2 separate regions of the Homo sapiens genome follow, and region 2 is linked to region 1. Evidence: fine-mapped QTL for protein levels in blood plasma. A gene starts in region 1. The other region holds a variant in brackets. All regions are shown on one strand. Distances are from middle to middle.

Evidence for each region. PIP is the posterior inclusion probability: the model's chance that the variant is causal. The UK Biobank Pharma Proteomics Project read protein levels with antibody pairs (Olink). The fine-mapping took linkage between variants from a reference panel, not from the people measured, so its PIPs are less certain.
Region 2: its variant is fine-mapped to the plasma level of the KLB protein (UK Biobank, PIP 0.99).

What each region holds. Positions count from the first base shown.
Region 1 is chr4:39,402,905-39,411,242 of GRCh38, reverse strand. It overlaps KLB (klotho beta), which reads right to left and starts at 4,313. Exons shown (of 5, transcript NM_175737.4): 1 at 3,469-4,313. The coding sequence starts at 4,293.
Region 2 is chr4:39,424,752-39,433,089 of GRCh38, reverse strand. All of the region lies in intron 1 of KLB (klotho beta), which reads right to left. Among named protein-coding and RNA genes, the nearest start is that of MIR5591, 17 kb to the right of the region's middle. The variant G/A (reference allele first, on the strand shown) is at 4,836.

The DNA of each region.
Region 1 (8,338 bases):
CCCCGTCTCTACTAAAAGTACAAAAAATTACCCAGGCGTGGTGGCACTTGCCTGTAATCCCAGCGACTCGGGAGGCTGAGGCTCCCGCTTGAACCCGGGAGGCGGAGGTTGCAGTGAGCCAAGATTGTGCCACTGCACTCCAGGCTGGGCAACAAGAACGAAAACTCCGTCTCAAAACAAAACAAAACAAAAACAAAAACTTAGAGTTGGTTCATCCATTAGTAGGTGTGATTATGGAAAATTTTTACCTGAGTCTTAGACCCGCATTAAGGTACTCCCTACATCTGCAATAAAGTGGAATCTAAATTGCAAGTCAGCCTTGGGACCCTCTGGACCATTCAGGTTTCCTCCAAATGGGAACATTTCAAACCGAGATGGAGTTTTCCAGATCATTCTGGAACGAAAAGGACCCCAATAGCCACTATGAAACCTTTTCTCTATCTGAGAAGTGGGGAATGAAGGGGTCCATACCCCCCCAGAATTCAGTTTTATATTAGGCTTGTGTAGCTCAATAAATGTTTTCGGTCTAAAAACTATTCCTAAAGAATGCTTCTTCTGGGTCACAAGGGGGCAGGAGAAGGAAGAAATACTTCATTGCAACGTAAAATATCAAATTAATGTTTTCTACGTGAAAGTCAAGACAGCGAGGGGACAAGTGGGAAAAACAAGTTCACCTCAGGCTACCAAATCATTGCAAGATTTCTTTAGTGCTATACGTCACTGGGTCATGCAGTGTATTTCACTTTCTGACTGATTTCAAGGACCCCTCACACCATTTATTTAGTCTAGTGATTTAGAACTTTTAAGGCAATACAAACATTATTTGGAAAACACAATAGTTGAAAAACATATCCCTCCATTTAAAATAATAAAATTTATCTCACGATCATAAAGTGCTAATTTTGTGTTAAAGGCAGAGAATATCTCAAATTAGAGGAAAATGAAAACATCTGAAAATATGTCATTTTATCAACTATGTTTGGAAGCAATATCTGTTAAAGCTTTTTGCCTGTTTATTCTTATCAGCCAATTTTAAGGCTTTAATCCTTAAAATACATTTTCATGAAAACTCTAATTGTTGACATTTTTCCAGGTAATGACTTTTCAACAATTTAGAATATTTTTCTTTATACAAAGGTTAAATAAACATATTCATGCATGTATTTGCATAGAAAACTTTAAAAAGAATGTATAAGAAACTATTAACAGTAGCGTCCTTGGCCTGGGATTGTCAGGTGAAGAGAGGGAGAGGGATTTAACTTTTTCACTTTAGATCCTTTGGTACAATGTGATATTTTTATTTTTTATTTATTATTTTTTTGAGACAGAGTTTCACTCTCGCCCAGGCTGGAGTGCAGTGGCGTGATCTCGGCTCACTGTAACCTCTGCCTCCCGGGTTCAAGGGATTCTCCTGCCTCAGCCTCCCGAGTAACTGGGACTATAGGCACGTGCCACGACGCCCAGTTAATTTTTGTGTTTTCAGTAGAGAGGGTTTCACTATGTTGGCGAGGCTGGTCTCAAACTCCTGATCTTGTGATCCACCTGCCTTGGCCTCCCAAAGTGCTGGGATTACAGGCATGAGGCACTGTGCCCGGCCCAATCTGATATTTTTAAATGTACATGAGCATGAATTGTTTTAAAAATTAAAAGGACTGGCTGAGCGCAGTGGCTCACACCTGTAATCCCAGCACTTTGGGAGGCTGAGGCAGGTGGATCATGAGGTCAGGAGTTGGAGACCAGCCTGGCCAACATAGTGAAACCCCTCTCTACTAAAAACACAAAAATTAACTGGGCTGGTGGCATGTGCCTGTAGTACCAGTTACTCAAGAGGCTGAGGCAGGAGAATTGCTTGAACCTGGGAGGTGGAGATTGCAGTGAGCCAAGACTGCGCCATTGCACTCCAGCCTGGGTGACAGAGTGAGACTTTGTCTCAAAAAAAAAAAAAAAGAAAATTAAAAGGACTAAATGAGAGGAATATTTTTCTAACTTTTGTATGCATAATCTTGATAACTGTTAAATACCTATACAATTTCTACCCTTTAAGGTCTTATTTTGTCAAATCACAGTATACCCACACATTAATATGTTCTATATACAACTCTAGTCAAAGATATGCAAATGACCTTGAAATCATAATGCAATCTGTTTACCTCAAGGGCAGATGTATCTGAAACCATAGTACAATGCACATGTGTAATAATCCAGAAAAGTTCAAAAAGAAAAGAAGTGATAGCAGATATTTTTGTATGTACAAATTTAGACATGGAATTATTTTATGTTGCTGTATTTTTTTTCTACTTCTGTATATTTAGCTTTTGATTATTAATAATTAAATTACTTTTTGTAGCACATTATAAAATTATATTGATAAAGTTTTTTCATTTTTAAAATGTAACAGGTGTGCAGAATAATTTATTTTTCCTAAGTAAACTATTTGACTCAAAAAGTTAAATTCGATTCTAGATATTAGCCTCAATGTGAGGCTAAATCTCTTGCAAATTCCTGAGTCTTCTTTTCAAAGCATTCTTAATGAAGACAGTTAGTGTTAATTATGTTGTCATTTAAAAAATCCATGTCCACAACAGCTGTATTTTACTCCTTAACCTTGGGAAAATTATTTAATCTCATTAAGCTTCAGTTTCCTCATCTTTTAAATGGGAAGAATAATAAAACTAGTTCAAAAGGCTGTTAAGAGGATCAACTGTAACGATGCATGTAAAATACTTAATGTAGTCTGTGGTACATAATAAGTACTCAGTAATTATTACCTATTATTTTGCTTGTATTTTCACTATTGTTTTACTAATTTTAACATTTCTCAACATTATCTCTAGCTTTTGAAATATATTGCTTGAAAATTGCTTTAGTAGAGCACATTCTTCCCAGTTCTTATGGGAAGAAATGTGTTTAGCTCCCATAACAATTAATCTTCTCTTTTTTGCTATGTAACACAAATAAAATCAAAAGTGAAGTATATTTAAATTTCTGTATTTAATATGCATGAGTTAGCTAACATTTATTTGGCTTACTTATTTACTTACTTTATTTACTTATTAGCTAAGTTAGCTATACTTAACAACAAATACATATTTGAAATGGTTGTGCCTTAAGATAATTCTGAAATGATTGCATGTTGTCAGAAAAGGGTTCCAACAATTAAATTTATGAAGCACTGTTTTCCCACAGAATGAAAGTAAGCTCATATATTCACACTGTAGTGTATAATGGTAGATTTAAAAATAGCCTCAAAGTGCAACTTTTGAAAAAACTAATTGGATTAATACATTAAAAATACCTTAGATAAATAAAACATACACTAACTTAAATGCAAAATTTGAGGATAGATCTTTTGAATTAGCTTAAAATCAGTTGCCTTGATTTCAGTGAAGAGAATTACTGAGGCAGAAGGTAAATTCTTAAATTCTTAGTGTTTTCTGAAGCTATAAGAAGAAGCTAGCTGTACAGTACCTTGATCAAGTTGTGTCCCACAGTGTAGACAGCTGCTAAATTTCCCTTCTCTCCAGGGGCATGCATACCTGTCCCATACCCATGCCAAGCCACTAGATATGGGTTGTGAATTGTAATCCAATATTTGACACGGTCCCCAAACATCTGGAAACAGTATGTGGCATAGTCATTGAAGATATCTATTATGGTATCATTTTTCCACCCCCCATATTTTTCTTGTAGTGCCAAAGGCAAATCCCAGTGGTATAAAGTAACTATAGGTTCAATGTTTCTAAGCACTAGAGCGTCCAGAAGAGTACTGTAGTACTGCAGACCTTTTGCGTTGGCAACTGTTACTATTCCATCGGGGAAAAGCCTTGGCCAGGAAATTGAAAATTGATAAAAAGAAACTCCTATAAAATCCAGGGCTGATAAGTCTTTTTCCAGAAAAATATAACTGTCACTGGAACCATTCGTGCTGCTGACATTTTTAAGGTGTGTGTGGATGAAATGATCCCATATAGAAGGTCCTTTTCCATCCTTCTTCCAACTCCCTTCCACTTGCAATGCTCCAGTCCCAATACCCCAGAAAAAGTTTTTAGGGAAAGTGTCATAGAGAAACAGCTGACTTTCATTTACCGGAGTAAAATTAGGATTTTTAGACCATATAGCTCTTCCATCTCCAGAGAATCCAGTAACAGCTCGTAGCAGAATAAGTGCTGACAGGATGACAGATCTTTGCAATCCCCCGTTGGACATTGTATTCCTATAGCGTGTGGTTATTTCATCAGTGCTGAAGAAAATCCATTCATTCCCTGGAGATCCTGCCGCACAGCCTGGCTTCATTTGCCACCAACTGCTGGACTGTCTTATCAAAGCTTCAGTAAAAGCTTGTGATTGTAAAGCTCTGTCAATGATTAGCTTGAACTGGGAGACTGAGGATGGGTCATAGAGAGCAACGTAATTTGAGGGAGGTGGCCCTATTGCAGTCACCAACGCGTCTCCTTCTCTCTCATTATGGAAAAAATTAGATGAAAATGCATCGGTGACAAGAGTTTGAATGTGTAACTAACACATATGTAAACACTGGATTAAAATCACATTATTTTCCGTGTAGCCTTTCATATTGACCCAAATCTTTTCTGAATGTTTTGAACATTATTGAATAAGGTATATAGCTTTTCTATTTTTAGAGTTTTTGTGTGGTAATTTTATAATCTCATATATCAAGAAAAATAACATATACAAGTATATAGCATTCCTACATACCAATAGTAAAGAATTAGAAAACACAATAAGAAATTACACTTCTCCACAAAATTATAACGCATCTAAGAACAATCTTAATAAATGTTACCTATTTTAGGAAAATTGCAAAAATGTATTGGTAGATTTGAGAGAAGACTTGAATGAGAAAATATAGCACTTTGTGGATGGAAAAATGAAATACTTTTCAATTTAATACATTTAACTTAACTAAAATCCTCTAATCTCTAATTTTATTTTTTATTTTATTTATTTAACTTAACTAAAATTCTCTAATCTCTAATTTTTTAATTAATTAATTAATTTTTAATAAGAGTCTTGCTTTGTAGCCTAGGCTGGAGTGCAGTGGTGTCATCACAGCTCACCGCAGCCTCAACTTCCCAGGCTTAAGCAATCCTCCCTCCTCAGCCTCCAAGTAGCTGGGACAACAGGCACATGCCACCATGCCCAGCTGATTTTTGATTTTTTGGTAGAGGTGGGGTCTAGCTATGTCCCCCAGGCTGGTCCTGAACTCCTGGGCTCAAACAGCCCTTCTGCCTCGGCCTCCTAAAGTGCTTGGGATTATAGGTGTGAGCCACCATGCCTGGCCTAATCCCAAATTTTAGTTCAAGAAAATTATTACGAAAGGCCAGGCACAGTGATTCATGGCTATAATCCCACCACTTTGGGAGGCCAAGGCAGGCAGATCACTTGGGGTCAGGAGTTTGAGACCAGCCTAGCCAACATGTTGAAACCCCGTCTCTATTAAAAATACAATTAGCTGGGCACGGTGGTGGGCACCTGTAATCCCAGCTACCTGGGAGGCTGAGGCAGGAGAATCTCTTGAACCTGGGACGTGGAGGTTGTAGTGAGCTGAGATCGCACCACCGCACTCCAGCCTGGGCAACAGAGCAAGACTCGGTCTCAAAATAAAAAAAAAAAAAAAAAGAGAAAATTATTATGAAAGTTCCCTTGAAGAATAGGCAATATTTATTTTTAAAAAGGAAAGAAAAACCTGAAAAAGAAAATAGCAAAGGCATAGACTACCTTCAGCATGATTCTGGAATAAAGATAAACATACAGAAAGAAATACATGCACATACAGAAAGAAATATTGTACCAAATCGATAGCCTCCAAATAACCTGTAAAAAATTTAATGTTTTACAGCCTGGGGAACATAATAAGGCCCCATCTCTACAAAAAAAATTAAAAACTAACCGGGTGTGGTTGTGCATGCCTGTAGTCCCAGCACTTTAGAAGGCCAAGGTGGGAGGATTGCTTTGAGCCCAAGAGGTCAAGACTGTAGTGAGCCATGATTGCACCACTGCACTCCAGCCTGGGTGACAGAATGAGACTCTGTCTCAAAAAATAATAAATAAATAAATAAATAAATGTTTTAAATATTTGAAGTATCACATATGAATGAGAAGCAGAGTGGTTAATAGTTTGGTCTCTGTGCCAGATGAGGTGGCTCACACCTATAATCCCAGCTACTTAGGAGGCTAAGTGGGGAGGACTGCTTGAGGCCAGGAGTTTTGAGACCAGCCTGGGCAATATAGTGAGACTATCCTCACCTCTAAAAAAAGATGATTGAGGCCCGGCACAGTGGTTCGCACCTGTAATCCCAGCACTTTGGGAGTCCGAGGCGGCTGGATCACCTGAGATCAGGAGTTCGAGACCAGCCTGACCAACATGGTGAAACCCCATCTCTACTAAAAATACAAAATTAGCTGGGCATGGTGGCACATGCCTGTAATCCCAGTTACTCGGGAGGCTGAGGCAGAAGAATTGCCTGATCCCGGGAGGTGGAGGTTGCAGTGAGCCGAGATCGCGCCATTGCACTCCAGCCTAGGCAACAAGAGCAAAACTCTGTCTAAAAAAAAAAAAAAAAAAAAAAAAAAAAAAAAAAAAAAAAGAGAGATTGAGCCTCTAGAGGCAGACTGCCTGAGTTTAAATATAGCTGTGTAACTTGCCCTCAGTTTCCTCTTTAAGAAAAGGCATAATAATAATATGCACTTCATGGATTATTGTGAGAATTAAACGAGTTAATACACTGAACCAAATGGTTTTCTCTGGAATATAGAAACGAATGAGCCAGTACATGTAAGGCACTTGGAACAGAGACTGACACATAGTAAGTTATGTGCTAATATTATTTTTGTGTGAAAGGGAAAGATTATTCAGGACATGATGCCAGGATTTAGCATAAAAGACAATTTGTTCTGGCTCCTGCCCACATTTTTAGCTTCACTTCTCTCAGTTGACTAAGGGGTACACAGCCTGCTAACTTGTAGCCCTGTACCTTGGTATGTGTGCTCTCTGCACAGAGTATGTTTCTCCCTTCATCTAGCTCATGTCTATCTTTTTTTTTTTTTTTTTTTGAGACGGAGTCTCACTCTGTCTGCCAGGCTGGAGTGCAGTGGCGGGATCTCGGCTCACTGCAAGCTCCGCCTCCCAGGTTCACTCCATTCTCCTGCCTCAGCCTCCTGAGTAGCTGGGACTACCGGCGCCCGCCACCACGCCTGGCTAGTTTTTTGTATTTTTAGTAGAGACGGGGTTTCACCGTGTTAGCCAGGATGGTCTCGATCTCCTAACCTCGTGATCCGACCGTCTCGGCCTCCCAAAGTGCTGGGATTACAGGCGTGAGCCACAGCGCCCGGCCGTCTTTTTTTTTTTTTTTTTTTTTTTAACTTTTAAGTTCAGGGACACGTGCAAGTTTGTTACATACGTAAACTTGTGTTATGGGTGTTTGCTGTATGGATTATTTCAGCAGGCAGGTATTAAGCCTAGTACTCATTAGTTTTTTTTTCCTGATCCTCTCCTTCTTCCGACCCTCCACCCTCTGATAGGCCCCAGTGTGTTATTTCCCTCTATGTGTCCAGGTGTTCTCATCATTTAGCTCCCACTTATAAGTGAGAACCTGCGGTATTTGGTCTTCTGTTCCTGCATTAGTAAGGCCTTTCTGACTCCCTATGACTCCCTAGCCTGATTGGATTTAGATGGATCTTCTGTTTTCCCATGGCAGCCCATGTTTTCTCTATTATGACACACAATAAATCAGCTAACCACACAATAAATGTATCTGTATCCTCTGTTTGAGTGTAAGTTTTCTCTCTCTCTCTCTGTTTCTCTCTCTCTCTCTCTTTTTTAAAAACCAAAACAGGGACCATGATTGGTTCCCTGTTGATTGTCTGTGGCCCAGCATGGTACTTGACATATAGCAGTCACTAAAGTATTTACTGAATGAATGAGAGTATCTATAGTAGGCTGGGCATGAGGGCCCACACCTGTAATCCCTGCACTTTGGGAGGCTGAGGCAGGAGGATCGCTTGAGTTCAGGTGTTCAAGACTAGCCTGGGCAACATAGTGAGAATTCATCTCTACTAAGAAAAAAAAAGTAGCTATAGTAGACTATGTATACCTCTATCACTGCATTTATCACATAATCCTGGAGTTGTTTGTCTCCTCCACCACACTGTAAGAATATCTCCTATCTAAATGTTTATAATTGCTTATCAGAGTAAATGATTAATAATTATCTATTGAATGAATGGAGTTGGTACATTACTATTTATGAAAATAAAATTTTAAATGCAATATCTTAGATCCTCACAAATATATTTAATTCAAAAATGTATAACCACA
Region 2 (8,338 bases), 22 kb before region 1:
TGGCCAACGTGGTGAAACACCGTCTCTACTAAAAATACAAAACTTAGTTGGGCATGGTGGCAGGCACCTGTAATCCCAGCTACTTGGGAGGCTGAGGCAGGATAATCGCTTGAACCCGGGAAGGCAGAGGTTGCAGTGAGCAGAGATGGTGCCACCGCACTCCAGCCTGGGTGACAAGAACAAAACTCTGTCTCAAAAAAAAAAAAAATCCCCTATAAGGTTGTTGTCTGGTTTAGAGCTAATATATGCATGAAATATGTAGCACAGAATAGAGCACGTAGGAGGTACTGCCAAAAGGTGGATGTTATTATTATTGGTCCTCCTGGAGTTTGCATTTCCAGTTGAGCTCTCTTACAACACAGCCTCGTGATGGGTTTCTGGTCCATTTAATATGATAGATACTTCCTGAGCACTTACTTCCATGCCTGGCTTGCCCTGGGCTGAGAGACTGAGATAGATGGCACAGGAACTTACCCTCAGAAAGTTTCTTATCAGGAAAATAAGGATGCAGCATGTGAAAGAGAAACATAAAATGGCATAAAATATGGCATTAAATTAAAAAAAAATTAAAAGCCAGAAGCCATGGCTGAGTTAACAGTCACAGCCACAGCTGAAGGAGCAAACATTAAGGACTCCATGCCACTTAAATGCCAAGGCCACTTCTGTGTCCCAGTTAGCTGTGGAATTGTCCTTCATCTGTGTCAGAACCACTCTCTTCCCCTCAGCATTTGACTTGCTTGTTTCTTGACATCTCTTCCCTGGTCTCTCATTTTCTCCATTATTTGAGTTGTTTTTTTTTTCTTTGAGACAGAGTCTTGCTCTGTCACCCAGGCTGGAATGCAGTGGTGCCATCTCAGCTCACTCAACCTCCACCTCTCAGGTTCAAGTGATCGTCCCACCTCAGCCTCCCTAGTAGTTGAGACTACAGGTGAGCACCACCATGCCCAGTTAATTTTTGTATTTTTAGTAGAGGTGGGGCTCCACCATGTTGGCCAGGCTGGTCTCGAACTCCTGACCTCAGGTGATCCACACACCTCGGCCTCCCAAAGTGCTGGGATTACAGGCGTGAGCCACTGCACCCGGCCCCCACTATTTGTGTGTTTCTAAAACAAATGCACAGACTCATTATCTTTAGCACACAGAGCCTGCTTTCAGTTTTGTTCCTTAGCTTTTCTTTTGCTCACTGGAGATATTTTATATCAGAATAAACTATCTGAAACTGCCTTTTACGTAGGTCAAAGACAAGCAGATATGAACAATGGATTCAAACCAGATCGATCCTGTGGACCCTGAAAATATTCCATAAACCCTGTTAGATGGGGAAAGTAGGCATTGAGGTAAGGGGTGAGGATTCTGAAACGTGCCATCCTGCTTTATGCAAGAAAAAACAATTTAAATAAATTCCTGGAAGATTTTCTGGAGAAATAAATTCCTTGAGGTATACCTCTGTCCACTTGTCCTTACTCAATTTTCATTGGAAGATTCTGGTACCATTTAGCACCCAGGTATTCCCAAGGATCCTTAAGAATGCTTTCCTCGGGCCGGGCATGGTGGCTCATGCCTGTAATCCCAGCACTTTGGGAGGCCGAGGCGGGCGGATCACCTGAGGTCGGGAGTTCCAGACCAGCCTGATCAACATGGAGAAACCCCATCTCTACTAAAAATACAAAATTAGCCGGTCGTGGTGGCGCATGCCTATAATCCCAGCTACTCGGAAGGCCGAGGCAGGAGAATCGCTTGAACCCAGGAGGCGGAGGTTGCAGTGATGCAGTGAGCTGAGATCGTGACATTGCACTCCAGCCTAGGCAACAAGAGTGAAACTCCGTTTCAAAAAAAAAGGAATGCTTTCCTCTTGGTTGGTGGTTGGGTGGGTGGCTCACATCTGTAATCCCAACACTTTGGGAGGCCAAGGTGGGAAGATTGCTTGAGCTCAGGAATTCGAGATCAGCCTGGTCAACATGACGAAACCCCGTATCTACAAAAAAAAAAAAAAAAAAATACAAAAATTAGCCAGGCATGGTGATACGTGCCTGTAGTCCCAGCTACTCAGGAAGCTGAGGTTGGAAGATCATTTGAGCCAGGGAGGCGGAGGTTGCAGTGAGCTGAGATGGCACCTCTGCACTCCAGCCTGGGGGACAGAGTGACACCCTGACTCAGGGGAAAAAAAAAAAAAACTTTCCAACCGGGAGCAGTGGCTCATGCCTGTAATCTCAGCTCTTTGGGAGGCTGAGGTGGGCAGATCACTTGAGGTCAGGAGTTTGATTTGAGACCAGCTTGGCCAACATGGTGAAACCTCTTCTCTACTAAAAAAAAATATAAAAATTAGCTGGACTTGGTGGCATGCGCCTGTAGTCCCAGCTACTCAGGAGCCTGAGCCAGGAGAATCACTTGAACCCAGGAGGCGGAGGTTGCAGCGAGCCTAGATTGAGTCGCTGTACTCCAGCCTGGGTGACAGAGCAAGACTCTGTCTCAAAAAAAAAAAAAAAAAAAAAAAAATTTCCTCTCAGAGAAGTATTCAGAATGTAGCCTCTTTCCTTGTCTCCAACCTGAGATTGCAACTTCTGGAAGAATCAGAGGGGCCTGGGACAGACACTACCTTAAATGGTTTCAGCTATTCTTTCCGGGTTTTTCTGGGGCTAGAATCACGACAGAAATTCTTGAGAACCGCTTTTTTTTTTTTCTAATTAGAAACAAAAGCAGTCATAAATTACTAGGATTCAAAGGAGGGAATTCTTTGTTTTTTTCTAACCAGTCACTTAATCCCTTGGTAGCCTTAGAGCTATCATTCATGGAAGACCCAGTGATCAGCACCTCCCTTCAGGCCTATTGTGCACCTCTCTATGCAAACTGGAAAGCACTGAGCCCGTGTAGCCTGGATTGTGAGCCTTAAACTTGTTGCTTTGCAAATTTAATGTCTTGCTTTTGCAGACACTAAATTTCAGTGATTATATGAAAGATGACCTAAGTCGTGATAAAAATCTTGGTTACATCAGCCTTTGAATGAGAAACAGTAGAGCTCAGAAGACATATCTTTGCAGTAGCTTTCCATGCAGGTTTTCTGGATATACATATGGATGTGTTGTCAAGGTGACCTTCACGTTCCACAGTGTCTCTTTCACCTTTGCTGCTATTTGCCTAGGCTATCAAGGTATCTAGGGTTATCTTTGCTCTGGGCTGAAGACAGCCTCTTCATTCTCATGTAGAGAATGTGGGGGAGGTCCTCTGTGCAGTACTTTTGGTTATAACTTGATCCTATTTGCCAAGTAACAAGGTAAAAAATTTTGCTCCAAGATCGTGAGTTTGCCATATCCATCTATGTGTGTTCTTTGGTTGGGCACTCATAAAGGAGATCTGTTGGGAAAATTAAAATGAGGTTAGTAGGGGAGTGCAACCTGGGCCCTGCAACCTTGCACAACAGCCATTCTACACTTTTCCAAGGTCACCCTCTAATTTGTACAAAGCCATCTACCTCTGTAATGATTGATTTAAGGGAGCTTCAACCTTTGTTCTTTAGATTCAGTAGCTTAAAGGGAAAGTCAGCTTCTTTTTCTTTTGGAGCCAGCTATCAGGCCCTAATGTCATTGAGAGACAACCAGGACCTAATATCTCATTCTGTTCTCTCCTCCAGTTTAATGTGGCAGCATTTTTTGATGCCCCTGGAAGTCCAGACTCAGATAAATTCTGTGGATGATAGGAAACAAATAAGATAGTAGGCACAACTTTAGAAATAGATGAAGAAGGGATTAGGAGCCAGAGGAAGACATGACAGGACACTGTTGGAAAGATGGGTTGAAGACAGATGAGCAAGCCAAACACATCACACCAGTGTATTCAAGGAACCCTCAGTCATTTGTCAAAAGTTCCATTTCCAAATCTGTGCATGAGTTTGGTCACATTTTGGCTGAAATATGTTCATGTGTACTATAAAAGTGTCTGTTGTTTAAGCTATTTAATAGACTATTAAATAACAATGGTTAAAGAAAGTTTATTTAAAAACTCCACAAGCATAACAAAATAGGTTTATATTTCTGTGTTCCCACCCAGGCTTTCCAAACATATTTCCCAGCTAAAATCACTTTAAGACCGGGTGCCATGGCTCATGCCTGTAATCCCAGCACTTTGGGAGGTGGAGGTGGGTGGGATCACCTGAGATCAGGAGTTTGAGACCAGCCTGGCCAACATGGTGGGACCCTGTCTCTACTAAAAATACAAAAATTAGCCGGTCATGGTGGCGGGCACCTGTAGTCCCAGCTACTCGGGAGGCTGAGGCAGGAGAATGGCTTGAACCCTGGGAGGCAGAGGTTGCAGTGAGCCGAGATCACGCCACTGCGCTTCAGCCTGGGCAACAAGAGCAAAACTCCATCTTGAAATAATTAAACTAATAAATAAATAAAAATTTAAGAAATAAAATCACTTTAAACATCTTCCACGCTGTTTTTGGTTTTCAGAATATCTTAGTATAATAATGATTTACTTAGCTATCTCTGTCTTTTGATAAAAATTTATTTTTCTTCGTTCTTTTGTTCTTTCTCTTTTCCTGTCATAAATGTTTCAATAGCTAACTTTGGGCATATAACCTTTAATTTATTTGAATCATTGCCTTTCATTAATGCCAGGAATGGACTACCTATTTCTTTTCTTTCATTCTTTTTTTTTTTTTTGAGACGTAGTTTCACTCTTGTTGCCTAGGCTGGAGTGCAATGGTGTGATCTCAGCTCACTGCAACCTCCACCTCCTGGGTTGAAGCGATTCTTCTGCCTCAGCCTCCTGAGTAACTGGGATTACAGGCACCCATCACCACACCCAGCTAATTTTTTGTATTTTTAGTAGAGACG[G/A]GGTTTCACCATGTTGGCCAAGCTGGTCTTGAACTCCTGACCTCAGGTGATCCGCCTGCCTTGGCCTCTCAAAATGCTGGGGTTACAGGCGTGAGCCACCCGGCCTGGACTACCTATTTCTAAAATTGTTTTAAATATTCCCAAATCGCTTTCCATACATTTTGTCCACTGGTGTGAGTGTTCTGTGACCATGGGATATAAAACATTGACAGCTCTATTAGGGGATAAATGGCATTTGAGAATGATATAAAGGTGCTACTCATCTACCTGGTACTATACGGGAAATAACATTGGTCTTGAAAGCAGGAGACCTGGGCTCTTGTATTAGCTCTGCTGACTCATCAGCTTTACGATCTTGGACAGATCATTTCACTGTCAAAGACCTGTTTTTCCCTTCATTCTACTGAGCTAAAAATAAACACCCTAGAGAATTTTCGTGAACGTCAAATGAGGCAATAATATCTGTGAAGACCCTGTGAAAATGACACAAACGTAAATTTGAAGTACTTTGAAAGAGCAAGCTGAAAATAATTTAACTTGGTCTAGAAAATCGTAATGGAGACTGTGTGGACGTGAAGAGTGTTCTGCAAATAGCTCCCAAGCCTTTACTTGCCAAGGCTCGTGGCTGAACATGTTTGCCCTCATTTATTGTTTGCAGCTTCCTGAGTTTTACTCGTTGTCCTTTTGGGATTAATTTCAATTTGATTCATCTTTTCATCTGCTTAGCCCTTCTCTATTTTGGTATCAAGTTGATTTTTTTTTTTTTTTTTTTGAGACAGAGTCTCCCTCTGTCACCCAGGCTGGAGTGCAGTGGCTCGGTCTTGGCTCACTGCAGCCTCTGCCTCCTGGGTTAAAGTGATTCTTCTGCCTCAGCCTCCTGAGTAGCTGGGACTACAGGTACCTGCCACCACGCCCAGCTAATTTTTGTATTTTTAGTAGAGACAGGGTTTCACCCTGTTGGCCAGGCTGGTCTTGAACTCCTGACCTCAAGCAATCTGCCTGCCTTGGCCTCCCAAAGTGCTGGGATTACAGGCATGAACCACCGCGTCCGGCCTCAAGCTGATTTTTTAATTTGTTTGTTTTGTAAAGACAACCTCTCACTATGTTGCTCAGGCTGGTATCGAACTCCTGGCCTCAAGCAATCCGCCAGCCTAAGTCTCTGTCTCTGTGCCAGCCTACTATCAACTTTTATGTTAATTACCAAATGCTGCTCTTCCAGATTGTTTAACATTCATTCATTCATCCATGCTGCAGTCTACAAATATTTATTGGATGCTGTGGCTCACATCTGTACTCTCAGCACTTTGGGAGGCTGAGGTGGGAGGATCACTTGAGGCCAGGAGTTCAAGACCAGACTGGGCAATATAGTGAGACTCTCTTTCTCTACTAAAAATTAAGAAAATGAGCCAGGCATGGTGGCATGCCTGTAGTCCCAGCTACTCAGGAGGATTAGATGGAAGGATTGCTTGAGCACAGGAGGTCAAGGCTGCAATGAGCTATGATCATGCCACTGCACTCCAGCCCAGGCAACAGAGCAAGACCCCGTCTCTTAAAAAAAAAAAAATTATTGGATGCTTAAGGTATGTGACCTTTACTGTTCATTGCTAAAAAATTATAAAATTATGTGACAATTATTTCTTTAATTATATTATGTGACTATTTTTTTAAAAAGTTTTTGGCAATCTTGAAACTCTTTTGCAATCATTATTTTACCTTTGCTTTTCTTAGGAAAGAATTTAAATATTAACAAAAGTTACAGCCTTTCATAAAGAAAATATTCACCATCCTATTTTTAATGGTCCAAATTTCATGGCCCTTTTTTTTTTTTTTTTTTTTTTTTTAGATAGGAGTCTTGCTCTGTCACCCAGCTGGAGTGTAGTGGCGCGATCTCAGTTCATTGCAACCTTCTTCTCCCTGGTTCAAGCCATTCTTCTGCCTCAGCCTCCTGAGTAGCTGGGACTATAAGCATGCACCACCACACCTGGCTAATTTTTTTTTTTTTTGAGATGGAGTCTCGCTCTGTCGCCTAGGCTGGAGACCAGTGTCACAATCTCGGCTCACTGCAACATCCACCTCCCAGGTTCACGCCATTCTCCTGCCTCAGCCTCCTGAGTAGCTGGGACTACAGGTGCCCGACACCACGCCTGGCTGATTTTCTGTATTTTTATTAGAGATGGTGTTTCACCATGTTAGCCAGGATGGTCTCAATCTCCTGACATAGTGATCCGCCCGCCTCGGCCTCCCAAAGTGCTGGGATTACAGGTGTGAGCCAAGCGCCCGGCCTAGTTTTTGTGTTTTTAGTAGAGACGGGGTTTCACCATGTTGGCCAGGCTGGTCTCAAGCTCCTGACCTCAAGTAATCCGCCCGCCTCAGCCTCCCAAAGTGCTGACATTACAGGCATGAGCCACTGCGCCTGGCCCAAATTCATGTTTTCTATAGTTGAAATAACTCAGTATTACATTTTAATGAATTTCTCCCTATTCTTTTTCAATCATTATATTTTCAAATTTTCTGGCCAGATGTGGTGGCTCATGCCTATAATCCTGGCACTTTGGGAGGCCAAGGAGGATGGATTGCTTGAGCCCAGGAGTTTTAAGACCAGCCTGGGCAACATGGCAAAACTCTATCTCTACAAAAAATACAAAAATTAGCTGGGCATGGTGGCATGTGCCTGTAGTCCCAGCTACTCAAGAGGCTGAGGTGGGAGGATCACTTGAGTCCAGCAGGTCAAGGCTGTAGTGAGCTGTGTTTGAGCTGTGTTCACACCACTGCACTCCAGCCCGGGTGACAGAGCAAGGCCTTGTCTTAAAAAAAAATTATTCTAACAAATTATTGATTATTCTCAGTTTGTATTGTCTCAGAATTTTCCTGAAGGAATGTAAAAACTAAACTCTAGCATATTTGTTCCTTTAAAACAAATGTCCTGTTAAAGAATTCTGATTTCAATGATAATATTACTAAATTAGACTAGTGGCTGAGCCAGAATCTATACCTGGCAACACAAAAGGAAAAAAGTCTAGAATAAAGTTCATAATTTGATTAAATGAAGCATCTAGTTTCCCTCTATTAGAAATTGGAAGAAATCAGCATTAGTAAATTAGTGCTTTAGTGAAGTTCTCTTTGCCGGAGGAGAGCATTTGCATGCCATCTTTGTAGAGGGTGTAATGATATTTAAGGCTTTTTGTTAGTGATCCTGATAGTAATTTTTTCATGCAAAAGGACTATATCTCATGGTATAACTGAAGCTAAAATGGTCTGGGTTGGTGACTTGAAGCCTTTCCTCAGGATTTGGGAATACAGATAGTCAACATATAAACCACCATGGAGGCCTGGCACAGTAGCTCTCACCTGTAATCCCAGCACTTTGGGAGGCCGAGGCGGGTGGATCACTTGAGGTCAGGAATTCGAGAACAGCCTGGCCAACATGGTGAAACCCCATCTCTATTAAAAATACAAAAATTAGCCAGGCGTGGTGGCACATGCCTGTAGTCCCAGCTACCAGG